Linked DNA regions of Homo sapiens. The protein of the gene in region 4 interacts with the protein of the main gene of each other region in a biochemical or structural test. Each region holds a gene or a part of one and is shown on either strand. Other genes may lie near its edges.

The links.
Region 1: the proteins of AP1B1 (region 4) and SLC2A8 form a complex in vitro, tested with the Homo sapiens proteins (one study listed by BioGRID).
Region 2: the proteins of AP1B1 (region 4) and CLINT1 form a complex in vitro, tested with the Homo sapiens proteins (one study listed by BioGRID).
Region 3: the proteins of AP1B1 (region 4) and KIF13A form a complex in vitro, tested with the Homo sapiens proteins (one study listed by BioGRID).

What each region holds. Positions count from the first base shown.
Region 1 is NC_000009.12:127,400,169-127,407,168, forward strand, and holds part of SLC2A8 (solute carrier family 2, facilitated glucose transporter member 8), read left to right. Parts: intron 1-2,388; coding exon 2,389-2,585; intron 2,586-3,491; coding exon 3,492-3,635; intron 3,636-3,790; coding exon 3,791-3,899; intron 3,900-4,649; coding exon 4,650-4,823; intron 4,824-5,251; coding exon 5,252-5,397; intron 5,398-6,943; coding exon 6,944-7,000.
Region 2 is NC_000005.10:157,786,134-157,793,177, forward strand, and holds part of CLINT1 (clathrin interactor 1), read right to left. Parts: intron 5,863-7,044; coding exon 5,570-5,862; intron 4,519-5,569; coding exon of another isoform or gene 4,492-4,518; exon of another isoform or gene 4,467-4,491; intron 4,308-4,466; exon of another isoform or gene 3,435-4,307; coding exon of another isoform or gene 3,381-3,434; coding exon 3,230-3,380; intron 1,886-3,229; coding exon of another isoform or gene 1,860-1,885; coding exon 1,513-1,859; 3' UTR 1-1,512. UniProt on the Homo sapiens protein: Binds to membranes enriched in phosphatidylinositol 4,5-bisphosphate (PtdIns(4,5)P2). May have a role in transport via clathrin-coated vesicles from the trans-Golgi network to endosomes. Stimulates clathrin assembly.
Region 3 is NC_000006.12:17,984,614-17,992,653, reverse strand, and holds the start of KIF13A (kinesin-like protein KIF13A), read left to right. Parts: upstream 1-5,018; 5' UTR 5,019-5,190; coding exon 5,191-5,245; intron 5,246-5,509; coding exon 5,510-5,600; intron 5,601-8,040. UniProt on the Homo sapiens protein: Plus end-directed microtubule-dependent motor protein involved in intracellular transport and regulating various processes such as mannose-6-phosphate receptor (M6PR) transport to the plasma membrane, endosomal sorting during melanosome biogenesis and cytokinesis.
Region 4 is NC_000022.11:29,378,571-29,385,570, reverse strand, and holds part of AP1B1 (AP-1 complex subunit beta-1), read left to right. Parts: intron 1-7,000. UniProt on the Homo sapiens protein: Subunit of clathrin-associated adaptor protein complex 1 that plays a role in protein sorting in the late-Golgi/trans-Golgi network (TGN) and/or endosomes.

The DNA.
Region 1 (7,000 bases), on a different chromosome or scaffold from region 4:
TTTTTTTTTTTTTTTGAGACAGAGTCCCGCTCTGTCGCCCAGGCTGGAGTGCAGTGGTGGCTCTCTGCAACCTCTGCCTCCTGGGTTCAAGCGATTCTCCTGTCTCAGCTTCCCAAGTAGCTGGGACTACAGGCATGTGCCACCACACCTGGCTAATTGTTTGTATTTTTGGTAGAAAGGGGGTTTCACCGTGTTAGCCAGGATGGTCTTGATCTCCTGACCTCATGAACCGCCAAACCTCAGCTTCCCAAAGTGCTGGGATTACAGGTGTGAGCCACCGCGCCCGGCCGATAGGTGTGTCTTATGACTGAGTTCCAGGGACAGCTGGAGAAGGTGATACCCTCAGCTTTCCTGAAGCCCCCTCTAGGGGTGTGGGAAGGGCTGACTGCTTAGGTCAGTACCTTACTGTGCAGTGACAAACCAGAGGGCTCCAGAGGTGGGTGGGTCCCTGTAAAAATCTTCAGCCCGGGCGAGTAAAGGGCTGAGCAAGTCCCCTGAGAATGTCAGTGCCAGATTCACCATGTCGGCGAGTTGCAACGTGAAGGAGGCCGGGGTCCTGGGGACCCCGAGGGGCAAAGCTGGGCCAGCATGAAGAAACTTCAGGAGACAGGTGTGTTCTCATTAGAAAGAGGCCAGGCTTTAGAGGCCAGACCCAGTGGCTCACACCTGTAATCCCAGCACTTTGGGAGGCAGAGGTGGGCGGATCACTTGAGGTCAGGAGTTCGAGATCAGCCTGGCCAACATGGTGAAAACCCATTTCTATTTAAAATACAAAAATTAGCCAGGCGTGGTGGTGGGCACCTGTAATCCCAGCTACCTGGGGGGCTGAGGCACAAGAATTGCTTGAACCCAGAAGGCTGAGGTTTCAGTGAGCTGAGATCGCGCCACTGCACTCCAGTGTGGGCGACACAGTGAGACTCTGTCTCAAAAAGAAAGAAAAAACAAGGGCAGGCTTCAAATCTGACCATCCTGAGTTTGGGGATAGCCTCTCCTACGTGCTGTGTGACCTTGGCCAAGTCATACCACCTCTGAAAGCCTCAGTTTCTCTGTCTTGAAATGGGCATAACCTCATCTAGTCCAGTACCTGTCCATTAAATTAATTGACACATGAAAAGTGCCTAACAGTGGGTTCCAAATGAGAATTGTCAAGGGATGACTTGAGAACCATGGGGATCATCGGGGTAGGAGGCCTCGGGGGCCTGACGGGCTATGGCCTGGCCCAGGGCACAAGCCCTCTGCATCGTCAGGGCGGATGATACACAGGTCTTTGGTGTTTCATTTTTACCCACTTAACCACCCTAACAAATTCAGAATCCTGCCAGCGATCTGGCTACCTTGGGAGACCTGAGTAAACCAAAGCCCCCACTGTGTGCAGGTGTTGACATTCATCATTTCGGGGACAGGTACTGGGTGTCCACCCACCCGTGGCACTATCTTCAGCTCATCTTAATATGTGCTTGTTGCTTCTCCTGCCTTTCCTGATCAATTTCTGTGAGTTTCGATCCACTGGGGTGGGTGAACTCTGATAACTCCACAAAGTGACATGGTGGTGGCACGTTTGCTTCACATTGGGGCAATCATGTTCCAACGACTAGACTTCATAGAACAATTGTCTGCACCCCCAGCACAGAAGAAAAATAGGGACATCATGGCTACCTTAGAGGTATTTTTCCACTGGGAACCAGGGATGGGTAAGCCTTGGGCTTAGGAAAAATTAGTAATTAGAGCAGCAATGCCCTAGACTCATTTATTCCAGGGCCCCTTTGTAAGAGAACCTTTTAACTTTATATAAAACTAGGTAATTCTGCACTTATGCTGTTCTTCATACGTCAAGACAGCAAAATCCTCTCACCTCTCTACTTTCATGTATACTTTGAATAGATAATGCATTCAAATGACTCAACACTCAAGTGCCAGAGTGGAGAGATGTCCAGTGAAAAGCTTCCTCCGCCTCTGTCCCTTTCTTGTCTGGGGGAGTCCCCATTGCCTGTTTCTTGGTAGCCTTCAGAGAGTCTGTTCATATGAGGGACATGCATATTTATCCTCCCTCCCCCACCTCTTCTACAAATGGTGCCACATCATACCATGCGGACACGCAGCAAGCACCTCATCCTTCATTTTTGTGGCTACATAAATGTTTCGTTGAACGGATGCAGCCTAGTAATGTCCGCGTTGTCATACCCACTGTCGCTTCCGCAGCTGGTGTGATTGGCCCGTGCCATGTGCCTTCATGAACAGTTGTGATAATGGCAATGTCAGTAGCGAACATGAGGGCAGATGTGCAGAGGCAGCGAGGCCCCATCTCTGAAGCTGAGTCTTTGAGGCTGGCAAGGCCCAGGCTGGCTCACCCTGGCTCTGACGCCAGCCTCCTCCACCCACCCCCCGCAGGCTGGGTGCTGGAGTGGCGCTGGCTGGCTGTGCTGGGCTGCGTGCCCCCCTCCCTCATGCTGCTTCTCATGTGCTTCATGCCCGAGACCCCGCGCTTCCTGCTGACTCAGCACAGGCGCCAGGAGGCCATGGCCGCCCTGCGGTTCCTGTGGGGCTCCGAGCAGGGCTGGGAAGACCCCCCCATCGGGGCTGAGCAGGTGAGAGGCTGGAAGGCAGAGCTGACAGGAGTGGGACAGCAGTCACGGGAGGGTAGCACAGCCTGTTCCCAAGGCCACACACTTGGGGGGTGGGGGACAGGGAGGTGCCTATCCACCCTCCACCCTCAGCGAGGACAGGCCCAGTGTGTCCTGTCTTTGAGCAGGCCAAGACAGCTGGAGCCCCACGGAGCTGGGCCCTGGCCTCCAAAGTCACCAGCAAAGCCCGAGCTTTGACCCTTACTGTCCCAGGAAGAGAATGGCCAGGCCTGGTGGGGGATACAGAGGCAGAGCTGAGGACTTGGATTTAACAAAGGAGTTGCAAGGCAGGGTAGAGGGCTAAAAGTCTGGGTTTTAGAGTCACCCAGGCATGGGTTTGAAGCCCCCACGCTGCCCCTCACCTAAGCTTTAGCTCTTCACCTGTGATGTGGGAGTCAGCACCTGCTTCACAGTGCTGGGTGGGACTCAGTGGGGGAAAGGAAGGCGGGGCTTAGGGAGGAGGGGGGCTCAGTGGGGAGGGTGGGGTCAGCGAGGAGGATGGGTTCAGTGGGGAGGGGAGGGTCAGGGCTGTAGGAGGTGCTTAGCTAGGGCCAGGCCCAGACCTGAGGCAGGTGCTGGATGTGTTGGTGGTGGCAGGGATGAGGGCAGCAGCTTGCTCTTTGCCCAGATTACCTCTTTGTGGCTCCCCCCCACCTATCAGGAAGTGCCCTGGGCAGGTGAGGGTCATCTCACCTGACACATGGGGAGGCTGGGACTTGTCTGCACACCTGAGGACACAGGGGGTGCTGGGATGAGGAGCCAAGACGTGGGAGTCAGCGCTCCCCAAGCCTTAGGACAGTAGACCCCCAGAGGGGGGCCGCTTGCGGGAGGGGAGAGAGAAATCCTGATGGCCAGTATCCGTCAGAGCAGAGCTTTCACCTGGCCCTGCTGCGGCAGCCCGGCATCTACAAGCCCTTCATCATCGGCGTCTCCCTGATGGCCTTCCAGCAGCTGTCGGGGGTCAACGCCGTCATGTTCTATGCAGAGACCATCTTTGAAGAGGCCAAGTTCAAGGTAAAAGGGCCCTGCCTGGCCTGCCTCGTCCAGCCCCCACATAGATGGAGCTTCCTCCCCAAGCCCAGGGCCCAGCCATCCAGCACAGGCCTGGAGAGGGAGGGACCCAGCTCTCAGCTGGCCCACCTGACCTGCCTGGGCTCTGTCTCCCCCAGGACAGCAGCCTGGCCTCGGTCGTCGTGGGTGTCATCCAGGTGCTGTTCACAGCTGTGGCGGCTCTCATCATGGACAGAGCAGGGCGGAGGCTGCTCCTGGTCTTGTCAGGTGAGGGTTCACCCCTGTGCAGCCTCCCCGCCATGCGGGGGAGGGCCTTCGCCAAGGCCACCACACTGCAGGAGGAGGACAGGGAGCATTTGTGATGACAAACATCATGGACTAATGCGGCCATGATTTGACAGCAGCTTGTCACCAAGCACTCACTGCAGGCCTGTCCATGCCAGTGGCACTCCCACACCACGCCTTTAACCTCTGTGGTGAACCCACCAGAAGGCACTCTCACAGCCCCAGCTTATGACGGGAAAACTGAGGGCCAGGAAGGTGAAGTGACTCAAGAGTTTGTGGGTCCTTTTGGACAAGTGACTTTACCTCTCTGAGCCTCAGTCTCCCCCTCTGGGAAGTGGGGGTAATGGCAGTGCCTCCCTCAGCACCATTTTGAGGAGTGGGAGGTGATCCACGTGAGGCCTTCAGCAAGAGCTGCGGCCCACGGACATTTGGTACCCAGCAGCTGCTGCGAAGACGACCGTCGGGGCTGAGGGTTACTCGCTGCTGCTTCTGTGCCGGTACCTCCCATTTCCTCGGCCCAGAGGGTCTGCTCCGGGAACTTTTTGCAGTTCGCTGAGGTCCAAGGCGGGGTGGCTGCCACCCAGTCAGGGCTTCTGCGGCCAAGGTGCCAGAACACCAAGCTGGCCGTTCTCTGGGAGCCGGGCCTGCCCCTCTCAGAGGCATCCAGGCCATGCTGCTGCGCCCTGGGCCGTTCCCCGGGTGCCCCGCCCACTGCCGCCCTCCCGCCTGCAGGTGTGGTCATGGTGTTCAGCACGAGTGCCTTCGGCGCCTACTTCAAGCTGACCCAGGGTGGCCCTGGCAACTCCTCGCACGTGGCCATCTCGGCGCCTGTCTCTGCACAGCCTGTTGATGCCAGCGTGGGGCTGGCCTGGCTGGCCGTGGGCAGCATGTGCCTCTTCATCGCCGGTAAGGGGGCCTGTGGGAGGCTGGGCGAGGAGTGGGAGGTGATCCCCCCGGCCCTGCTGTGGCGGCTCCCGGCAGGTGGGGTCTTCCCCAGCCTCACCTCTCCTCTCGTAAGTTCCAAGCTCTGCATTTCTAGCTCTGACCACATGCAGCTGTGGAACTAGGCCCCTCTGCGTTCCTTTCACTTAATCCCCTGAGCAGCCCTCGAGCAGGCCCCGTTGTGACCCCATCTCAGAGACAGAGCCTGTGCCTGAGGAGGGAAGAGGCTGGCCGAGGCCTTGGCAGGAAAGCATGGAGCTGGTGGGACCACACTGGGATCCGGGACCCCACAGCCCCACAGGCTGGGAAGCTGGGTCTCTTGGCTCTGCAGCAAGCTGAGGAGCCCAGCCCTGCGGACCCTGATGCCTGTCTTGCCTGTCTCGCTCCCACAGGCTTTGCGGTGGGCTGGGGGCCCATCCCCTGGCTCCTCATGTCAGAGATCTTCCCTCTGCATGTCAAGGGCGTGGCGACAGGCATCTGCGTCCTCACCAACTGGCTCATGGCCTTTCTCGTGACCAAGGAGTTCAGCAGCCTCATGGTGAGGGCAGGCTCCACCAGCACCGCGTTCGTGCAGTCAGCCGAGAAGCACTTTCTAAAACCACTTGTATTGCAGAAGACCCAGGGTCGTGGCCTTACATGCAGCCTGAGCCCCACCATGCCTGGGCCACTGGCCATCTTGGGCAAGGCGACGTGGAGGCAGATGGGCTAGGCCAGATGGGGAACCCAGGCTGTGACCCCTTGGGAGTCCTCTGCCTGTCTTGGCAGTCAGACAGCACAGCTGGCCTCTCCCCTTAGTGAACGTCAGGAAAGCGGGCCTTGAGCCTAAGGTCTTACATGGGAAGAGTTGACAGGGCTGGGCTGCAGCCCCACCCTGGCTACTTCCTTGCTGTGTGACCTTGGGTATGATGCTTACCTTCTCTGAGCCCGCTTCTTTGGCTGAAACTGGAGGAGAGTAACAGCAGCTTGCTCTTAAGACGGATGGGAGCATTAATTCAGTTCATCCTGTTGCTGCCTTCTCACGGATGGACTGGCACAGGTGTGGCCCCTGTCCCGGGGCTTCCCAGCCAACAGAGAGACAGTTCTGGGGTAGATGATCTGGTTGTTTGTTCAGTCATTTGTGCCCTCCAGGTCTCCTGGCATGTGCCATGTCCAGGCCCATTCAAGGCGCCAGGGAGAGCAATGAACAAGATGGACAGGGTCCCCTTTATGACAAGGACGGGAAAGGCCATGGCAGTGGTGGGAGAATGAACCCCAGTGGGGCTGGGTTAGGATGTGGTGGGGCGGGTCATGAGGGGCCAGCCTGGAGTCTGTGCAGAGCTTGGGACCCGCTTAGGCAGGACTGCCCGGGGAGCACATCGAGGGGGCCAGGCCGATGCCTGGGGGTGGAGATTACTTGCTGCAGCTGGGAGGGGATGCGCAGCAAAGGAAGGAGGAAAAGAAGCCAAGAAGGAGGTGACAAAGGACCTAACAGTCCTTTTTTAGGAGAGAAAATGTCCAAGAGGCCAAGAGAAGGCCTTCGAGGAGGGAGAGATCGCCAGGTCCCAGAGGACCAGGAGCTGAGAAGCACCTTTTTAGTTCTGGCACGTGGGAGGTCACAGTGGTGGTGGATGGCAGGGACAGGTTCTGACTGAAGGCCCCATGTGCTCCTGGGGCCATGCTCGCTTTGCCCTGTCTCACCCATTTCCACCACACTATGAAAGAACCCACCGGGGGCCTCAGGGTGGGGCCAAAGCTGAGGGTGGAGGGTTGGTCTGTGGGCCCTGGAGTCAGACCTGGAACAGGAGCCCAGCTGTCACTGGATAGCGGGTCTCTGGCCTTGAGGCAGTCACTTCATTGCTGTGAGCCTCAGTTTCCCCAGCCATACGACCTCGGTATCTTGGACAGTGCTCGGCCCAAGCCACCAGACTGGATGCCAGACTATCCTCCATGTCCCAGAGCTGGGTGGAGATAAAATGGGTGTGGCCTTGGGCAGGGCAGGCTGGGGTCAGGGGACTGGACCCCCTGGTGGCAGAGCTGTCTCAGTGATCGCGTGGGGCTTCCTGATCTCTCCCCGCGTCCACCCATGGCCTTTCCTCTCTCTGCAGGAGGTCCTCAGGCCCTATGGAGCCTTCTGGCTTGCCTCCGCTTTCTGCATCTTCAGT
Region 2 (7,044 bases), on a different chromosome or scaffold from region 4:
TTAATTCCTAACAGTAGAGTCTGATAGGAAAGAATAGAGAAGTCATTAAATAATTTTAAATTATTTATAAAAATTACTTTGCCCAAACTATAATTATTTTTTCCCCAAATGGTCTCAAATGTCTAACAGAACGAAAGAAAAAGCAGTTCAACATTGATTTTAATGAACATTTTAATGTTATGTATAACAGAACATTATGAATATAATGGAAATAAAGTTTTATCAATTTAATAAAAAAATTTTCAACATAACATGGGGAGGTAATAATTTGATATCTATATTATAGTATTTATTTTGAAAAATATTCCCAGCTTGAGGGTAAAACAATTAATTTTGCATTCCAAACTCTAGAATCATGATTTTCATGTGAGCTTAATGCAGAATTACAGCAGAAAAACAAAAACATTTTCATTAATTTCCTTTGTCATTAAATCAATAAAATCTTTGACTGCTACAGGTCTCCTTTAACAATATATATTTAACTCCTCTATTGGAACCATATTGCTAATGCTGCATTATATACACTCAAAACCAAAACAAAACAAATACTGTATAAAATCTAAAAGCAAACATTGAGTTGTAACATTTATATTTAACTTAAGGTTTTAATGGATTTTTACCTTTGCAGACACCCAAAAAAAAAATAAAATAAATATTTTTCTGACTGTTCCTGACTTAAATGATGGCTACAGGGATAAACACGGAAGGAAGCCTTGCCAAGTTAATCACTGCAAATTGTAAATAATGACTGCTAAAAACAAACAGAAGTTTTTTTCTTTTAAAGGAAACCATAGAGCAGTCCTGAAAAAAATTTCTTCCTAGTTCTGCACAGGATAATTACAGCAGAAGACATGGGAAAAGTCCCATGGCAATCACCAATTGCTTAAAGAGGTTTTGTTACAATAAAAATTTGGATAGTATAATAGCAGTGTTGCTGGAACATTAGCAAAAGTATATACATTCCAGTTACCTTTGATTTAGCCATAATCACATATGTATGCTTTTTTTTTTCTTGGACAAAAATATATATTTTTATAAAAAACTGATCATCCAACTTTAATGATTTCATATATGGACTCAAGAGTGGTAGTAAAAGGAACAGACCCAATTATGACAAGGCGATCCAGGGACAGAAAAATCAAGTTCCTCAGGAAAAGAAAGTATAAAATTAGAGATTCAAACACATTTATTCAGCCCTATTCCAGTCTTCCCACAAATTATGCTGTTAAATGGACTCTTCAGTTGATAAAGGCTTTCAATGGTCTCACCACCCACTTGTGGTCTATCCTCACTGGAAAAAAATGATTTTGACTGCCTCATCTGAAGTGCTCTTGCCTGGCCCTCTGAAATACTGGATATTTCACTTTTATAAAACAGCCTTTTTGGTTCTTTATGTAGATTTATTTTAATTACTTGATAAAAGAAAGGGTAGTTGATTAGCATTTTCCATCCCAACATCACCTATCTGCACAGCTAAAAATTCTTCATTCAATCTGCTTCTTTTACAATCTCTTATTTGCTAAAATTGGCGAAATTTGCAAAGGCATCTTGCTTGGGTTGCACAGTTCCAGAAGTCATGGCTATGTTGGGCATGCCCATTCCCATTGTGCCTGTCAAGCCCATCCCAGCAGCGGACATCCCTATGTTCATGTTCATGCCCATCATGCTCTGGTTCATCATCGGAGTATTTCCAAGAGGGGCCATTCCCATGGTGCCAGTCATCACATTGGGCATGCTCATAGGCATGGGTCCCCCTATCAAAGCATTAGTTTGGGGCCGGACAGGAAGCATGTTCGATGGAGAACTGAGGTTCACAGCTCCAAAACTTTGAGTCATCACATTCATAGGCTGCTGCATATCTACCAGACGAAAACAGACAGAAGAACTTTACCACAATAAATTTTTAGGTTCATAGAACAGAGAACTAATAACTTCTTGACCATCTATCTATACTTCTTTAGCCCCAATAAAATTCCTTTACAGTGATTTTATTAGAAATCAATTACTCTGCACTGGTTCCTCTTGAGACATATATTCAGTGACTATTGGCTCTGGTTCCCCAGAGATGTAGAAACAGTAAGAGTAGACTGGGGAAAAACAGCCAACTTAAAAACATTCCTACAAAACCTATTGTTAAATCCTACTTAACAAGTTGTCAAGAGCTAGTGTGTATAAAAAATCTTTCAAAGGTTTACATCCTTTGACTTATTCTATTTTTAGAACATTCTATTAAAAAAATCAGAAGTATGAAGATTTATACAAAAATCTTTAAAAAGTTTATATCCTTTGACTTATTTTTAGAACATTCTATTAAGAAAAAAACAGAAGTATGAAGATTTATACAAAATCTTGATTTATAATAACAAATAGCTGGAAACAATTGAAATAATTAGCAAGGGAAATCATACACTAATATAACTATCAAGAGCTAACAATCATTTTCCTAAGAATATTATTCAACACAGGGAAAATGATAACTTAATGTTGAATAAGAAACAGTATAGAGAGAATGATCCCAAGTATTAAAAATATGCTTAGAAAAGATGGAAAGTGGCCAGGCGCGGTGCCCCACGCCTGTAATCCCAGCACTTTGGGAGGCCAAGGCGAGTGGATCACTTGAGGTCAGGAGTTCAAGACCAGACTGGACAACAGGGTGAAACCCTGTCTCTACTAAAAATATAAAAATTAGCCAGGTGTGGCGGTGCACGCCTGTAGTCCCAGCTACTCGGAAGGCTGAGGCAAGGAATTGCTTAAAACTGGGAGGTGGAGGCTGCAGTGAGCTGAGATTGCACCACTGCACTCTAGCCTGGGCGACAGAGCAAGACTCCATCTCAGAAAAAAAAAAAAAAAAAAAAAGAAAACATAGAAAGAAATATGTATTAATGGCAATTACCCCTCAACGGCAGAATCAGATGATTTTTGTTTGTCCATCGTATTTGCCTATATTTAAAAAAAAATCTGTATAGCAAATTTTTATTTTAGTGATCAGGTCCTTAAAACTCTCCACAATACAATAAATGTTATCAGGACAAGAATAGAATATAAAGTAATTCAATGTGCCAGGAGGAATACCCAGTAAATATTATGTGAAAATATCTTAAGTGAACAGGCATTTGGTTAACTGTTACAATTTATGTGATATATTTTTATTTATAGTTTGAAGTAGTCCTGGCATTAAGGCAAAAGACTGCAAGTACACAAAGAAGTGGGACGTCTTAAGGTAACTTACTCTGTTGCTGAATCATTGTATTCAGTGATGGCTGCTGGGGTTTGGAAGGCTGCATACCAGGTAGTAAGTTGTCTAGGCTGATGTTTACACTGGGGTCAGACCAAGTAGAGGGCAAGGTTTTGCTGACTGATTTCTGGACCATATCTGTATTCTGATTATAGAGAGGATTAGGCTTCTGCAGCACTGTGCTAACATTTTGCAAAGGCTGGAAAATAGAAAAATGCTCTAAAAATTAAGCATCTGTTCTATAAAAATTATCAGATGGCAATTTAATCACAACAATGAACTTCTGAAACAAAAAGAACCACTAATGTTCTATGCTAATGTCTTCAATACCCTGAATCATTAGCTTCCCAAAGAGGTTCCTCTGAAGTCCCAATCAGGTTTGAGGTGGATAAAACCAACAACTTACCTACACTAACAATTATTCTCCCATCACTCAAAGTCTAGAAGCCACCATCCCTGGCAAATGCCCAGGGGAACTACCGATTTTAGGTTAGTACAGCTTTAAGGAGATACACAAGTGGACATTTATTCTTTCAAAACAGAATTCAGAGGCCAGGCGCAGTGACTTATGCCTGTAATCCCAGCACTTTGGGAGGCTGAGGTGGGCAGATCACCTGAGGTCAGAAGTTCAAGACCAGACTGGCCAACAGGATGAAACCCCATCTCTACTAAAAATACAAAATCAGCCAGGCATGGTGGCACATGCCTGTAGTCCCAGCTACTTGGGAGGCTAAGGCAGGAGAATCACTTTGAACCAAGGAGGTGGAGGCTGCAGTGAGCAGAGATCGTGCCACTGCACTCCAGCCTGGGCGACAGAGCGAGACTCTGTTTCAAAACAACAAAACAAAACAGAGAATTCAGGATATGATGTCTCACATTATACAAGGATATAAGGCAAAACTGTCAAAAAGCAATTTATATTTCACATATCCTGACATTTTGCTGTTCTGTGTATACTTTTACTATCTAAAGTGAGCAACACTAACTGAACTGATTAATATATGGAACAATGTAGGAGAAAGAAGAAATTCAGGAGAAAGAAGCAGAGGTTCCTAGTGGTTATTGAGGATAACTGAAAAGGACAGAAAAAAGGAACAGGAAGAGGAAGAATAATTAAAAATGTACCAATGCAAAGAATTATGACAGTTACAATTAAGACTGCAAATAAAGTAGACTGACTTTATGCTTAACTCATACATTAGGTCTTATTTCTGTTACATAGAGCAGTCACCTTTCTGCTTCTTTCTTCTTTTCCTTCATCCTAATACCCCAAAGACGAGAATCTACACATTAAAATGAGTAATTAGCATCATAAACACATATTCTCAATAGTTTGAGTCAAAAATAGCAAGTTCCTGGTACCATTCAGACACATATTTTCCAAGCCTGCACTTGTCTGAATTCTAAGCTAGTACTAGGTAATTCGGATTTAACTATAAAATAGTGAATTAAGAAGCTCCCATTTTGGTTGTTTTTCTTTATGAAAATGAAAGTTGAAAGATGAGCCTATAAAACATTTATATAATGTAGAGCAGGTCCAGAATTGGGAAGAACATTCACCATTCGAGAGAATGATTTTCCATATTAGCAATAATTATTTACAACCAATGAGTGATATTTCTTTAGGGACATGACCAGAAATTTTACTAAGTGGATACTTGCCGTAAGTGAAACAATATCTCTATTTCTTTTTCTTTTCCTTTTTTTTGAGACGGAGTATCACTCTGTCGCCCAGGCTGGAGTGCAGTGGCGCGATCTCAGCTCACTGCAAGCTCCACCTCCTGGGTTCACGCCATTCTCCTGACTCAGCCTCCCAAGTAGCAGGGACTACAGGTGCCTGCCACCATGCCTGGCTAATTTTTTGTATTTTTAGTAGAGACTGGGTTTCACCGTGTTAGCCAGGATGGTCTTGATCTCCTGACCAAGTGATCCACCCACCTCAGCCTCCGAAAGTGCTGGGATTACAGGGGTGAGCCACTGCGCCTGGCCTATTTCTTTTTCTTAAAGACAATTTAAAAAAACTATCAAGTACCAATTTGTTGTAACAATAAATTTTTGCCATGTTCCTCCTCTGTGCAAAGGCACCATGCTTGGCTTTACAGTGACTACAAGATGGGGGAGAAGGTCTTGCCTTCCAGAATGCAAATGACTATGCTAGGGGAGAGTATGAGGTAAATGAAATGTGCAAATGCGTATATATACACACACAGACACATATTCATACACATAAAAAGGACTTGCTTATTTTTCTGTTTTATACTAATCTATCATTCAATGAGTTAGAGCATCTCAAAGATTATAAATAACAAATTCCAAGGGAACCAGACAACTTACCTGTGATCTTGACATAGGCAAACCAAGTCCCACAGTGTTAGTGCTCATCATAGAGAAATTCATACTCTGGGAAGATGTCATGGTTGCCTGGGACGAGCCCATAAGATCAAACAGGTCTGAAGAATTTGAGGCAGCAGGAGGTGGGCCTAGAGCTGATTGTGAGCCACTAACAAGTTCTACCGCTGGCTGTGAGGCACTGCCAAAGAACTCGCCACTGGAAGCAACAGGGCCTGATGGGGCTTGGTTGAAGGCACTCCAGTCACCAAAGTCTCCATTCCCACTTGTTGCTGTTACTAAGACAGAAATAACTCTAAGGGTAAGAAACTTCATGGAATGCACAGAACAAATGTAACAATCTATGAACTGAAACAAATTAGAGCTGATCTGAGTCCCCCAGATTAACATCTGCAGGTACCATCTCCATCTGGACAGTATTCTTTCTCATAAATATTACACGAGAGTTAACAAGGTGGCAAAGAAAAAACAAACCTCCCAAATATAACGTAAAATCCATCTCTTGGCAGCTCTGTAGGTGACACATTGAATTTACCATAAAAAAAAATGGCCAGGCATGGTGGCTCACGCCTGTAATCCCAGGACTTTGGGAGGCCGAGACAGGTGGATCACAAGGTCAGGAGATTGAGACCATCCTGTCTAGCACGGTGAAACCTCATCTCTACTAAAAATACAAAAAAATTAGCTGGGTGTTGTGACACACACCTGTAGTCCCAGCTACTTGGGAGGCTCAGGCACAAGAATCGCTTGAACCCGGGAGGCGGAGGTTGCAGTGAGCTGAGATTGTGCCACTGCACTCCAGCCTGGGTGACAGAGCGAGACTCCGTCTAAAAAAAAATGAAGAATTTCTCACTTATTTGGCCATACTTCCACTGACAATACAAGGGCTATAACCTTAGCACATTGCCTGCTTCAACTGGGACCATTTATTTACAATCAAAGAGAGGAGGAAAACTCATGTAATATTAAAAAACACAACCAAGCCAGAAACAAGCAAAACCCTATCATACTTTGCAAGTTTAAGGTTGAATGCATAAAATCCATACTCTTAATCACTACAGTCTTATCAATTAACCTCTGATCAATTTTTATATTGAAAGGAACAGATAAATACGCATAAATGGAAGTTGAAAAAGCAAAATGTGAAGAAAGAGCTACATAAAAACCGTCATCTGAAAGCAAATAGTAAGTATGTACCTTCCAAGTTAATTAACACCATCCCTTTGCATTCCATGTTCATTTACAACTTGGAAATACATTTTGTCTAGCCTAAAAAGTGACCAACCACTACAATACCATGTCTCATTATGCTAAATATCAAAAGAGAATAATAAGGTGAAGTCTTTAAAATTACATTCTTCTATTACCATATTAAAATGTAAGCACCCTTGAAAGAGAAAATAATTCACTTAGAAACTCCAAGTTCTACTAACAATTTAATATAAAAATTGGGCTAATTT
Region 3 (8,040 bases), on a different chromosome or scaffold from region 4:
CTTCTCTACTAAAAATACAAAAAATTAACCATGTGTGGTGGTGTGTGCCTGTAATCCCAGCTACTCGGGAGGCTGAGGCAGGAGAATCACTTGAACCTGGGAGGCGGAGGTTGCAGTGAGCCGAGGTTGCGCCACTGCACTCCAGCCTGGGTGATACAGCCAAGACCCCATCTCAAAAAAAAAAAAAAAAAAAAAAAAAAAGGGAGTTAGATTTGGCATGGGAAGCAGGAGAAGGCAGCACTTCTGTCACTAGGTGGAATGCCCAGGGATGCAAATCTGATTCTTCATGGAGGCCTTTCCTAGGCGAAGAACTTGAGGAGTCCCCTGACTGAGTTCAGCTTCTCTTCCAATTTGAGAACTCTGTCAGCGGAATCCAAGCACGGAATGGGTGGCCGTTTTGGGGGCTGTTGTAAAAAGGTCCACAGGACTCCCAAAGGCCCTTCAAACGCTAAAAAGACATAATTCCTAATGATGTAAGGCTAAACTGTTTTGAAAAAGAAATGTTTAGTAAACTTTTATTTATTTATTTATTTATTTATTTTTGAGACAGAGTCTTACTCTGTCACCCAGGCTGGAGTACAGTGGCATGATCTTGACTCACTGCAACCTCTTTTCTCCCCGGTTCAAACAATTCTTATGCCTCAGCTTCCCAAGTAGCTGGGATTACAGGCATGTGCCACCATGCCCAGATAATTTTTTTGTATTTTTAGTAGAGACAGAGATTCACTGGGTTGGCCAGGCTGGTCTTGAACTCCTGGACTCAAGTGATCCGCCCACCTCAGTCTCCCAAAATGCTGGGATTATAGGTATGAGCCACCATGCCCAGACTAGTAAACTCTTCATAGAAGAGGTGAGGACTAATCTGGTCTTTAAAGTTGGAAAGGGTCAGGAAAGCAGAAAGAAGAGTCACTCTGCAAAGAACCAATGGGAACTGTTTTTCTAACCTGTAACACCAAATGAATCATGCCCCTCTCACCTTAAGACCTATTCTTCTTCTCAACTATTCGTGGTGTTATGGGCCATCATCCTCCCAATCCCTTTCTCAGTCACTTGCAATCCTTTGCCTCCCTCAATCTTCACATCCCATTGGTTGCTAAATTGTTCCACTTTTCTCGCAGTAAGTTCTGCGTCTGTTCCTTCTGCTCCATTTGTGCTATCATTGGCTTTGTTCATGCTATCATCACCTCTGGATGATGATATCATCACCTCATCTGGATGACTACAATAGTCCTCTGGATGGATACAGTGTTGCCAAATTAATTACCCTGAATCAATGCTCTGAATATGTCAATCCCTGGCTCCAAATCCAAATGCTTCATTCAGTTCCTATTGCCTTTACAATAAACATGAAATTTCTTAGGCACTCAAGGCTTTCATGATCTGGCAGAGAATGAGGGAGAAGGAGAAAATGAGACAGAGAAGGGATTGATTAAATTTTGTATATCCTCCCTTCCTTTCTTCCTTCCTTCCTTTTCTTTCATCCTTCCTCTCTTTCTTTATTTTTTTGAGACTGAGTCTCACCCTGTTGCCCAGGCTGGAGTGCAGTGGTACAATCATGGCTCACTGCAGCCTTGACCTAGGCTTTCTAGCAATCCCCCCTGCTTCAGCCTCCCAAGTAGCTGGGATCACAGGCACACGCCATCACGCCTGGCTAATTTTTTATTTTTTGTAGAGACAGAGTCTCCCTATGTTGCCCAGGCTGGTCTCAAACTCCTGGGCTCAAGTGATCCTCCCACCTTTGCCTCCCAAAGTGCTGAGATTTCAGGCATAAGCCACTGCGCCTGGCCTCTGTATTAGTTTCTTAAGACTACTGTAACAAATGACCATGAAATGGGTGGCATAAGACAACAGAAATTTAGTGTCTCAGAGTTCTGGTGGCTAGAAGTCCCAAATCAAGGTGTCAGCAGAGCCGTGTTTCCTCCGGAGGCTTCCTTTCCTCCTCCTAGCTTCTGGTGGCTCCTGGCAAACCTCGGTGTTCCTTGGCTTGTGGCTGCATCACTCCAATCTCTGCCTCTGTCTTCACATGGTCTTCCTCCCTGTGTATCCAAATCCCCCTCTCCTTTCTCTAATAAAGACACTAGTCAGGCCAGGTGCGGTGGCTCACACCTGTAATCCCAACACTTTGGGAGGCCGAGGTGGGCAGATCACCTGAGGTCAGAAGTTCGAGAGCAGCCTGGGCAACACAGCAAAACCCCATCTCTACTAAAAATACAAACATTAGCTGGGCATGACGGCACATGCCTGTAGTCCCAGCTACTTGGGAGGCTGAGGCAGGAGAATCGCTTGAACCTGGAAGTGGAGGTTGCAGTAAGTTGAGATCGTGCCACTGCACTCCAGCCTGGGCAACAGAGCGAGACTCTGTCTCAAAAAAAAAAAAAAAAAAAAAGACACTAGTCATTAGATTTAGGGACCATCCTAACCCAGTATGGCCTCATCCTAATTTTATTTCTGCCAAGACCCTGTTTCCAAATAAGGTCACATTCACAGGTACTGGAGGTTATGGCTTGTACATACCTTTTTGGGAGTTACAAATTCAACCCTCTACAATTCCCACTGATAGAAACTACCAGAGCAATGGCTTAGCATAGGGATGGTATCTTGCTTGTGAAAAGGTCCTGGATAAAGAATTTCAGGAATGGTGGGAGGTAATATTAAACAGAGAGGTTTTTTGTTTGTTTGCTTGTTTTTGAGGTGGAGTTTGGCTCTTGTTGCCCAGGCTGTAGTGCAACGGTGCGATCTTGGCTCACCGCAACCTCCGCCTCCCAGGTTCAAGCGATTCTCCTGCCTCAGCCTCCCAAGTAGCTGGGATTACAGGCATGTGCCATCACGCCTGGCTAATTTTGTATTTTTAGTGGAGACGGGGTTTCTCCATGTTGGTCAGGCTGGTCTCGGACTCCCGACCTCAGGTGATCTGCCAGCCTCGGCCTCCCAAAGTGCTGGGATTACAGGCGTGAGCCACCGTGCCCAGCCTGAGAGTTTTTTGAACAATAGAATACCATGCACGATTAAAGGATAAAATTTTAATTTTGTGAAAAATCAGTCTGGAAGCTGGATTTAGGAGTGATTAGAGGAGGCAAAGCTAGGAGGGTTAACAGGATGTCTCAGCAGCCCAAAAGTGAAGAGGTAAGCACAGACCTAGATTCTTAGCCTCAGAGGGCTGGAAATTTCACCTCTTTCTGAGCAGCAGCTGAGAGCCTGTAGCCTAAAGCCTACAACAGTGTTTGTAACATAGTAGGGCGCTCAGAACACATTTGTTGAACAAGTGAATGGACAGGTAAAGTGAGATTGCAGCAGCAGGAATGGAGAGGAGGAAAGATGCAACAGGCCCTTCAGAGGTAGACTGAGATAGCTGGCTCTACAATAAGGTGGGGCTGAAGTATTTGTCCTTCAGTGTACACAGGGGACTGGTTCCAGGAACATCCAAAACCATGCATACTCAAGTCCCACAGTCAGCTCTGCAGAACCCACAAATAGGAAAAGTTGGATCTCTCAGTTTTGAACCTGCCAAATACTGTCTTTTCTTTTTTCTCCCTTTTTTTTTTTGAGACAGGGTCTTGCTTTGTTGCCTAGGCTGGAGTGCAGTGGTGCGAACATGGCTCACTGCAGCCTCAACCTTCCAGGCTCAAGTGATCCTCCCACCTCAGCCTCTCCAGTAACTAAGACTACAGGCACCTGCCACCATGCCCGGCTATTTTTTAAATTTTTATGTTTGGCAAGATGGGGTTTCTTTACATTGCCCAGGCTGGTCTCGAACTCCTGGCCTCAAGTGATCCTCCCGCCTCGGCCTCCCAAAGTGTTGGGATTACAGGCGTAAGGCACTGTGCCAGAGCACGAATACTGTATTTTCAATCAGATTTTGGTTGAAAAAAAGCCACGTGTAAGTGGACTCGTGCAGTTCAAACCCGTGTTGTTCGAGGGTCAAGCGTAGCATCACCTCGGTTGGAGGCGGACGGACCCCTCTCCTAGCACCTGCCGTACACTGTCTAGCATAATAAGTCTCCACGCCCTCTCTTCCACCTTAGCGTGTGCCTCTGCATCATGCTATTCATGTTTCTGTGTGTCCTCAACAGCACCCTGCACACAGTAAAACCTCAATGCATCTTCCAATAAGTGGATTTCTAGATTTAAGCAAAATCGAAAGATTCCTGGATCTAAACTCTGGATTTTTGACTTCTGTACGCTTCAAAATGCCTGGCACTCGGTGAGCGCCCCTTAAGCACTTGTTGAACCAAACAGAATAAATCGGATTCGCCCAGTTCCGCCCTGGCAGCGAGGTCTGCATTTGGCAGGATGACAGAATCCATTGCTATTAAATTCTTATGTAAGAGTTAATGGCCCTCCCAGCCCACTTGACATCCCTCCCGAGACAAGAGAGGCCGGGAAAGGAAGGGAGAGCACTATTTACAAACATACACTGTTTCGGTGGTGGATTCACAGATTCATTTCTAGTCTCGGTTCACCACAGAGATCTTAAAATACCGCTGCAGGCTCCGTGTGGGACAGAGGGGGCGGCGTGCCGGGACTCGGAGGGGAAGGCCTGCGCACCCAGCGCGGCGAGCCGTGGTCCTTGCTGCCGTCCCGGGGCTCCGGGTGGCAGCGGCCCCAGAAGGCGGCTCGAGCTCACGGCGGTGTCCGGGGGGGGGCCCCGCGGGCGCCGGTGCAGGCTTGGCCTGGGAGGTCCCCTGGGGAAACAATGCGTCCCGCCCCGGACTCCAGCCTCCCCTAAGCGCCGCGCTGCTCGCCGCTCCTCTCACTGCCGTCCCGCCGCTCCAGGGGGCGCCGCGCGTGGCCGTGTCCGGCCTCTCCCGAGCCCCGGCGGGTGACGGGCGCGGAACATGGCGGCGCGGGGCCCCGGGCAGCCGCGAGGGGCCGCGGCGCTGCGGTCTCGGCTGGGGCGGCGCGGCTAGAGCTGCGCCTGGGCCCGCCGGCGAGGCCTCCTCCCCGCCCGCCGCCGCCGCCGCCGCCGCCGCGCCCCGCCCCGCGCGCCCGCCCCTCCCCGGGCCGCGGCCGTGCCCCGCGTCGCGCTCCCCCGGGATGGCCCGCGCGCCTCGGCGCTGCCTCTCGGAGCTCACGGCGGAGCGGCGGCGGCCGCGCTCGAGGGGCGCGCGGCTGCAGCGGCGGCGGCGCCGCGCGTGAGGGGCCGCCTAAGGCCGAGCGGGCGCGGCGAGCGGCCGGGCGAGCGCAGCCAACATGTCGGATACCAAGGTAAAAGTTGCCGTCCGGGTCCGGCCCATGAACCGACGAGGTGAGGAGCTTTCCGCTCTTTTTTATTTCTGCTCGGGCTGAGGGCGGGGGCAACTTTAGAAACTGCGGGGCCGGGACGGCGAGAGCGCGGCCGGGGCCGGGGGGCCGGGGCGGAGGCGGCGTCCGCGCTGGCCGTGGTGCCCGGGGCGCCGTCTCCAGGCTCGGCCGCCTCCAGGGACGGAGCCCCGCTCGGCGCGGCTGGCGGGCGGGCGGGCTGGAGGCGCGGATGCTGGACTTTGCAACGTCCCTTTCTCTCTGCTTTCAGAACTGGAACTGAACACCAAGTGCGTGGTGGAGATGGAAGGGAATCAAACGGTCCTGCACCCTCCTCCTTCTAACACCAAACAGGGAGAAAGGTAAAGCGGGTTCCGAGAGGGCGGCTGGGAGGATCCAGCCTCGCGGGGTCCCGCAAGTTTGAGCCAGGAAAATGGGAGTGCTCTTTCCTATTGTTAGGAGGACGGCTTCAAGTTTGTCGCCGGCTCCTGTTTGAAGCTGTTGCAAGTCCAAGTTCCTCTCCTCCCTCGCCCCCCTTCTCCTCCATCTAGAGCGGCGGCAGGCAGGGCACCCTGGCCACAGCACCAGTCAGCTGAGCCCGGGCGGGCTGCGAGGCACCCGGGAGGGAGAGGGCCGGATGGGACCCCATAGGTGATTCGTCCAGCGGCCACATTTTACAGACAGGAAAACTGAGGCCCGAGGCGGGCAGGTGACCAGCCCACGACCTTATTGTTCGTGGAACCCAGTGTCCGTGATTCTTTTCATCACTGCAGGGTTTGTTTCCTTTGGCAGAATTGTTTAGGGACAGTGTGTCTAAAATGGGAGGAAAAAATAAAGCAAAAGTCTTGTACGATGTAGACTCAGGCTGGACTAGTTAGTATCTATTTTAGTTGTTGTTGCTGAGTTGAGATAATGCCTCAATGTAATGCGCGAATTTTGATTTTCAAAGAAACAAAAGTAGGGCCCTGAACTGTATAGACACTGAGGGATGTTTAAAAAGGGGCTGTATTTACTAGATGGCAACATATTTGCATTTGAAAAGTGGTAACTGTTGGATCCTTATTAATTCCGTTCTGTTCCATGCAACAGTATGGGTTAACGCCCCAAAATAATTTGAATATTTGGCATTTTTCTAGTAAGCCTCTGAGAAGAAATCGGTTGGAATTCATTCAATATAATAATGCAGTAGCTTGTAAATATATATATGTGAAAAAACGGGAGAGTTTACAATATTAATTTTCATTGGAAATGAATATGAGTTTGTGTTTCCACGAATCACCTGTTGATCGATGGAATACAATTTAGTGAATTTCCTTCTTCAGAGATTTTCACTGAAGAGAGACTCTGAAGCAGGGTTTGTGACATTATTGCTTAGAGAAGCAATGCCTCCATTCTATAATGTGTGGTGTTCAAGCTCAGTTTTGCCAAATTTGGGGAAAGAAATCATGAGGCGATAAGATTGGGGATTCTTTGCTTTTCGTGTTGAGCATAGCAGTTTTTATCCAGTTTGCAAACATTCTGCTACCTTTAGCAGATTCTGGTGGTGATATTAAATAGCTAAGCTATATGTAAAATGTTGTGTTTAACACTGAATGTAGTGTTTATTGTACATTGTACTGAATGTTGTCTAGTAATGGATGTATTTTTAGATGCATTTATAGCAGTGTAGATAGTATAGCATATTTCATGGTGATAGTAAGTAAACTCATTGAGTACATTAAATATTTACAGATTAAATTAGATGCCCATATCACCAACGAATGTCCCCTCCCCCCACCCCCCCGCAAACTGCATATTGTTTCGGGAAAAAATTCTGTTGGGTCAGATTCTTGAAAGCAGTCTGGGGGAACAGGTAGAATACTTTTTAGCTCCTGTTGTGTAGCCGTTACTTGTTTTCCTTGCTGGCTTGGCACCTGCTCCTTGTCACTCTTAACCATAAGCAGTGCGACTGTTAGCTACTGTTTAATGACATGAAGTGTTGTCATTTGTGAAGAGAAACAGATTTGATTTTGTGGGATTTGGTACAATCTATAACTGTGGACAGTTGGTTCCAAATGCTAAGTAATCAGTTGATCATTTTTCGGGCTGAACCACGTTAGTTACTAATCAGGATCTTTTAGGTAAAGATTTGAAGGGTGATTTTGGGATCTATTCATCTGCTTACTTACGATAGTCCCTTATCTGGAGTTATAAAAATAGCATTGAAATATGGGTACTCTCGTGTTTTGTCCTTCTGACGGATCTAATTCTTTGAATAGCAGATGAGCTTTCTGTGGGATTCTGTCTTGAGTACCGGTCATTTCATTTACAGACAAACTGAGTAGTCAACAAAACAGTGCTCCTTGTACATTAGGATTACTGTCTTTGCACAGATGAAGACACCAAATGCATTTTTATTTTCATTATGCAGCTTGGTTTCATATTTCTCCACAGACTTTTCCCTTAAAGTAACAGTGCATTTAAAAATAGAAACAATTCCTCCCTTGGGCTCTGGGTTGATTAATTGCAGCAGTGCTTCATGCTATGTTTGCAATTCATTTCTGTCATTGGTTTTTAGATAGTGCTCAGGGCAGGGCAAAGGTGAAGAGTAGAATACTGAGAATGTTATTATTTTTCATATCTGCAAGTCCAAGGTTTGAAGTGTAAGAGGTCTTTAAATGCATATTGGCAAACCTGTGTCAAATTGAGAATTACTGTTTTTCTGAAAGTTGCAAGAAATTACCAATGAATTAGCCATGGATAGAAATTGAAGGTTAGTGGGTGAAAGTTTTCAGTCTTACCAGTAAAAACAAGTGAGAATGC
Region 4 (7,000 bases):
GTGGCTCCTAGTTGCCCTCGGGCTAAAACTCACATTCCTTAGCATGGCATTCAAGGCCCTTTGGACTCTGACCCCTGCCTAGCTCTCTTTTGTCATCTCTCCTGCTCCACACTCACCTTTTCCCAAGCTCCAGTCAACCTCAGCTACTTGCTACTTCTGCAAGCACCAACTCTTTTTCTTTTTTCGAGACAGGATCTTGGCTTGTTACCCAGACTGTAGTACAGTGGAGCTGTCATAGCTCACTGCAGGCTCCAACTCCTGGGCTTGAACGATCCTCCTGCCTCAGCCTCCCAAGTAGCTAGTACTACAGATGGGTGCCACTGTGCCTGGCAAATTGTTTTTATTTTTTGTAGAGATGGAGTCTTGCTATATTGCTCAGGCTGGTCTCAAACCCCTGGCCTCAAGCAGTCCTTCTGTCTGGGCCTCCCAAAGTGCTGGGATTACAGGCGTGAGCCACCACACCTGGCCTCCCAACTCTTTATACCTCTCTGTCTTTGCTTTGCACTCTTCCCTCTGCCTGAACACCATTTCCTGCTCTCCCAACCTTACCTGCCTAGCTGGAGTGCTACTTGGTTCTTCCCATCTGATCATCACCCCTAGGTCTGAGCTAGATGCCCCTCCTTGATGCCCTCTGGCAAGGGTCACAGTGGGTTGTGATTGTTTATTTGGCTCTCTTCTAAGTAAATAGCTCTTTTTTTTTTTCCAGACAGAGTCTCGCTTTTTCGCCCATGCTGGAGTGCAGTGGCGCGATCTTGGCTCACTGCAACCTCCGCCTCCCGGGTTCAAGCAATTCTCATGCCTTAGCCTCCAGAGTAGCTGGGATTACAGGCACCTGCCACCATGTTTGGCTAATTTTTGTATTTTTAGTAGAGATGGGGTTTCACCATGTTAGCCAGGCTGGTCTCGAACTCCTGACCTCAAGTGACCCGCCTGCCTCGGCCTCCCAAAGTGCTGGGATTACAGGTTTGAGCCACCGTGCCTGGCCAGTAAATAGCTTTTAATCCTTGACGAAGACCTGCCTTAACTACGTCTCCAGCACCTAGTGAGGTGTCTGGTACATAGTTGGTGCTCAGCAGGTGTTGAATGAGTGAATGAATGAATATTGCATTGAATTGTTAGGATTCCTTGACTCCTAAGGGGTTCAAAGCACTTTCTAGATTATCTCCTGTCCATCCTCATGTCACCTCATAGAGACAGGGAGAAATCTGATCAGTGCTGAGACTACTTTCAAACTACAGTTGGTACCACCAGACAGCCATCAGGGTGTTTCAGGGCTTCCAGAGACCTGGGAATCTGGTACGGAGCAGGGAAGTGGTAAACTCTCTCTCTCTCGGTAGTAGTAATAGTGGCTAACATTTATCAGGCATTTTGTGGGCCGGGCACTGCTAAGGGCTAGGTATGTATTGACTTGTTTTAGCCTCACAAACCCTTCAGGCATGTAACATTGTAGTTCCCATTTTACAGTTGTGCTGCAGTTGTGCCTGTTTGCTTTGTAGAACCTGGGAGAGCCCCTGTCCTACCTGCAATGGCTGCCTTCACCTACCCACTCCTTGTGTTTAGATTGTCCCCTCTTATATAGTGGAGCTGAGGAAGGACTTGGCTATGGTTCTACACTCCTACACCTCATGCTGTCTGGGTCTTTAGCCTTGGACTTGACCTCTGACCTCTGTCAGGAAGGGAGGCCTCTCCTAGTTGTGGTATGAGTGTGGCCTAACTCTGGGTTGACCCCACAAGGCCCAGAATTCATCAGTTACTGGGATGCCTTAGTCACTGATCCCCCAGGTTACCACCAATTACCACAGTCTACCCTGTGGACTCGGAGCTGGAAGGTGGTAGGTTTGAAAGTCAGGTCTCAAAAGCTTTTTTTTTTTTTTTTTTTTGAGACGGAGTCTGGAGTGCAGTGGCGTGATCTCGGCTCACTGCAAGCTCTGCCTCCCAGGTTCACGCCATTCTCCTGCTTCAGCCTCCTGAGTAGCTGGGATTACAGGCGCCCGCCACCACGCCCGGCTAATTTTTCTATTTTTAATAAAGACGGGGTTTCACCGTGTTAGCCAGGATGGTCTCGATCTCCTGACCTTGTGATCCGCCCACCTCAGCCTCCCAAAGTGCTGGGATTACAGGCGTGAGCCACCGCACCCGGCCCAGGTCTCAAAAGCTTTAAAACTGAACCTTCAGTGTTCATTTTTGGCATTTCAGTAGCTGAGTTCCATAGAGGAATAGACTTGGGTGGTAGATACTTTTTACCACACCCTCCTTACATTTAGGATCTTAAGCCTATTGGGAGCAGAATAACACAATTTCAGTAGAGCCAGCCTTGGGTCTGCTGCTGTGGTGGTCTTCATTGCCCGATCTCCGAGTATTGGGTGGCTGGCTGCTGGGACACTGAGGACAGAGACTTTCTAAGTCCAGTATTCATTCAGTATTTATCGAGGCCTGCTAATGCCTGGTGCTGGCCTATGCTGATAGGTCAACAGGCCAGATATGGCTTCAGGCTTCAGATAAGCCCTCTAGTTGCTTACTTCATTTTAATGGGAGAGAGAGACAAAGAAGTAGAGAAAAAAATGCAATGATTAGAAAAACCAATAAGCCACAAGGGAAACAAAAGGCATAGCAGCCAGAACTTATTAAAATATAGGTCAGATGTCAGGACTCCTCTGCTCAAAACCCTCCAGTGGCTCCAGCTCACTCAGTAAAAGCCAGAGACCTCACGCTTGATCATAAGGCCCCCTGCATTCTCCTGTGACTTCCTGACCCACTGTTTTCCTCATTGCTCACTCAGCCACATTCACTTCCCTTCTGTTCCTCAGACATGCCAGGCACATACTCACCTTTGCACTGGCGATCTCTTTTGCTTGGCAGGCTCTTTCGCAGACAGTGTCACCTGTCACCTTCTCAAGGAGGCCTTCTATGGCCACCCTAGTTAAATTTTAACTTCCCTTCCTCCCCTCTCCCCTCCCTATCCTCCTTCCCTCCTCTTTTTTGCCTCCATTGTGTTTATCACTATCTAAGATGTTATATATTTTACTCACTTATCTTGCTTACGGTCTCTTTCCCCCATTAGGACATAAACTCCATGTAGGGAAGGATTTTTGTCTGTTTCTTTCACTCCTGCATTCCCAACATGTAGAAGTGTTTCTGGTACACGAAAGATGCTCAGGAAATGTATGAATAAGAACACTGAAGGATGTGGACAGAGAAATACCTTCTTAAGGTTGTACATGCATGGCCAGGTGCCGTGGCTCATGCCTGTAATCCCAGCTACTTGGGAGGCTGAGGTGGGAGGATCATTTGAGGCCAGGAGTTCAAGACCAGCCTGGATAATTTAGCGAGACTCCACAAAAAACTTGAAAAGATTAGCTGGGCATGGCACACGCCTGTAGTCCCAGCTACTCAGGAGGCTGAAGCAGAATTGCTTGAGCCCAGTAGTTTGATGCTGCAGTGAGCTATGATCACACCCCTGCACTCTAGCCTGGGTGACAGAGCAAGACTATCTGTCTCTAGCAACAACAACAAAAAAGATAGTACATGTAGGAAAGGTATTTTTTTTTTGTTTCTTTTTTTAAGCATCAGAGGTATCACGCTGAAGGGAAGTTATCTTTGAAATGAGATCATCTAAGCTGAGATTTGAAGGATAAATTGGAGCAGTTAGGAGAGGATAATCCAAGCAGAAGGATCAGCAAGGGTAGAGATAGTGAAGAGTTGGCTGTTAGAGGAACAAAGAAGGCATGTGGGCCTGGAGGCAAGGACCTGGTACTTATATCCTGTGCCAGAGCCCCCCACCTTCTGCAGCTCTGTCACTCTGAGCTGATACCTATGGGAGCAGGTGAGAGTGACTTGGCCTCACTGAACGTTTCTCCCACTGGAGATGTTGCCACCTGATCTTCTACCCTTGCCATTTCTTCTCTCTCTCATAATTTATTCACTTAACTTCCATTTATTGGCTGTAAATGTGCTAGGGGTCTGGCATGTTCAATTTCAGTATAGTTAGAATAGCTTGACAATCAGAGCAGATGTATCTCTGATCCTGGATAACCCCGTGAATGGAACATGGAGAAGCTGCTCTAGCAGAGGTTGGTTTACAAAACATGAAATTTGCCCAAGAAGAGAGTTGAGCACTGGTCATTCAGCTACTTATTGAACACCTGTTTGCCAGGTACCAGCCTAGGAGTCAGGAATATGATAGTGAACAAAATGGACAAAATCCTTACCCCCATTTACATTAGGGAATTTATAGGGGGAGAAAGAATAGACAACGTAAGTATATTTTATAGTGTGTAGGTAATAGGTAATAAGTACTTTGAAGGGAAAAAGGGCAAAGAGGGTTAGGAAGTGGTGGGGATTATGGGGGAGGGGTATACAATTTTAAATAAAATGGTCAAAGAAGGCCTCAATGAGAAGATGACATTTGAGCCAAGACCTAAAGAGGTGAGGGACTGAGCCATGAGGCTGTCTGGAGAAAGAGCCTTCCTAGCAAAGTGAATAGCACGGGCAAAGGCCCTGGGGTGGATGCATGTTGTGTTCGAGGATCAGTAAAGAGGCCTGTGCGGCTGGAGCTGAGGGAATGATGGGGAGAAGAGTTCAAAGGGTAATGGCCAGCAGGGTGCATGCGTGAGAGAGGAGGGGCATGCATCTCTTATAGGACCTGTGGGCTATGAGGCCATGGTAGGGACTTTGGCTTTTACTATGAGTAAGACAGAGAACCGTTGGAAGACGTTGAGCAGAGGGGTGCTACTGTCTGATTTGGACTGTAAGAGGATCATCCTGGCTGTTGCTGAGATGGGGTGTCAGCAAAGCAGTGTGGGAGCAGCTTTGTTAGCACTCTAAATGGAAGGTGATGCTGGCTTGGAGCTGGGGTTAGTGATGGAGCTAGTGAGAAGCTGCTCATGGATTCTAGATTCATTTTGAAGGTCGGAATCCAATAGGATTTGCCGATAGATTTAAAGGAGAGTATGTTGTTAAGAGTGACTCAGGTTTTTAGCCTGAGGCCCTCTTAAAGATGGTGCTGGCAGGAACTAGATGATGTAGACTGCAGGGTGAGCCAGTTGGGGAAAGGAAGGAAGCAGGAGGTCAGTTTTTATCCCATTGTTTGAGCTGCCTGCTAGTCATCTCCACAGTAATGTGGAGATGTCAGTTACACAGTTTGGACATGTGTGCCCGGGGGTTCTGGGGAGAGGTTGGGCTATGTGGATGGTATGTAAAGCTGTGATACCGGATGATCCACCAAAGAGGCAAAATAGCATAGATGGGGAAGAGAAGAGGTACCAGGCCTGAGCCCTGGGGCACACAGTGTTGAAGGAGAAGGAGAGGAACAAGCAAAGGAGACTGAGAAGGCGCAGACAGTGGCGTAGGAGGGCAGGCAGAGAGCATGGCATCCTAGCATTTGAGGGAAGACAGGTTTTCAGGAAGGAGGGAGTGATCAGTAGTGTCAAATGCTTATCAGCATGAGACTTGTCATTTGACATGACCATTGTGTCTTCTCCTGGCAGGACCCAACACACCTGGCATCCAGAACCATTTCTGAATCTCATTCTTCCTTCCCTAGCCTCGTCTGCTCCTTTCCCTTCCAGGTCCTTTCCTTCAGCCAGGCAGCGGGGCTCACAGACTTCTTGTTTTGGCCTTAGGTAAATCACTCATCTCTCAGTGTCTCTAATTCCTTGTTTTTTAACTGAATTACCCTGAGAATTAAATGAGAAGGGTTGTAAATCACTTAGCAAGAAGCCGTTCCCCAGCTAGTGTTGATTTAATTGTTGTCAGTTCCCTCCGTTGTCACATTGGCAATTTCGTGGTGCATCTCTTTGCCACCTCCACTCTTGCCTCTCTAAATCTGACCTGTCTTTTTGCGTCAGCCAAGCCCCTCTTCATCTAAGAGAACTTCCCTTGCTGCTCCACCTATCTCAGAACCCTCCTCCTCTGGAGGCATGATCACTCTGCCGTTCCCCTGCAGTCCTTTACCTGGCCTCTAAATCTGTAAGAGCTCAGTGAGAAAAGACTGTCCTTTGTTTACTGTGTGCATGCTTCCGTGTGGGGCACAGTTCCAGGCATGGAGCGGATGGTGCTCTACACTGTTAATTTGACAGATCTTCAGAAAGTGTTCCCATTACATAGATGGGAAAACCGAGATCACAAAGAGCGTTGTTCTGTAGTCTCTGGCCTCTTTCTCCTCATCTCGATTAATTTAAGTATTGTTCAGAAGAAGCCTTACTTACTTTATTTTCAAGTCCAGAGGAACTTTTTCTTTTTTTGAGATGGAGTCTTGCTCTGTCACCCAGGCCAGAGTGCAGTGGTGCGATTTCAGGTTCAAGCAATTCTCCTGCCTGAGACTCCTGAGTAGTTGGGACTATAGGTGCGAGCCACCATGTCCAGCTAATTTTTGTATTTTTAGTAGAGATAGGTTTCGCCATGTTGGCCAAGCTGGTCTCGAACTCCTCACCTCAAGTGATCTGCCCACCTCGGTCTCCTAAAGTGCTGGGATTACAGGCATGAGCCACTGCGCCCATCACTTTTTTTTCTTCACAGCAGATCTTTCCGCACATTACGGCTTATAGATCAGTTCAGAACTGGTACCTGATTCTAGAATGGAGTTCTAGAGACTCAAAGCCAATATAAGAACGTTTGCATGTGACATTTGTCTGCCTTTAGTTCCTTTTCATTCTGAAGTCTTTAATTGCTAGTGGGCCTCAGGAAACTGACTTTTTTTTTTTTTTTTTTTTGTGGGACGGAGTCTTGCTCTGTTGCCCAGGCTGGAGTGCAGTGACACGATCTCAGCTCACTGCAAGCTCCGCCTCCTGAGTTCACACCATTCTCCTGCCTCAGCCTCCCGAGTAGCTGGGACTACAGGCACCCGCCACCAGGCCCAGCTAATTTTTTGTATTTTTAGTAGAGATGGGGTTTCACCGTGTTAGCCAGGATGGTCTCGATTTCCTGACCTCATGATCCGCCCGCCTCGGCCTCCCAAAGTGCTGGGATTACAGGCGTGAGCCACTGCGCCCGGCCTTTTTTT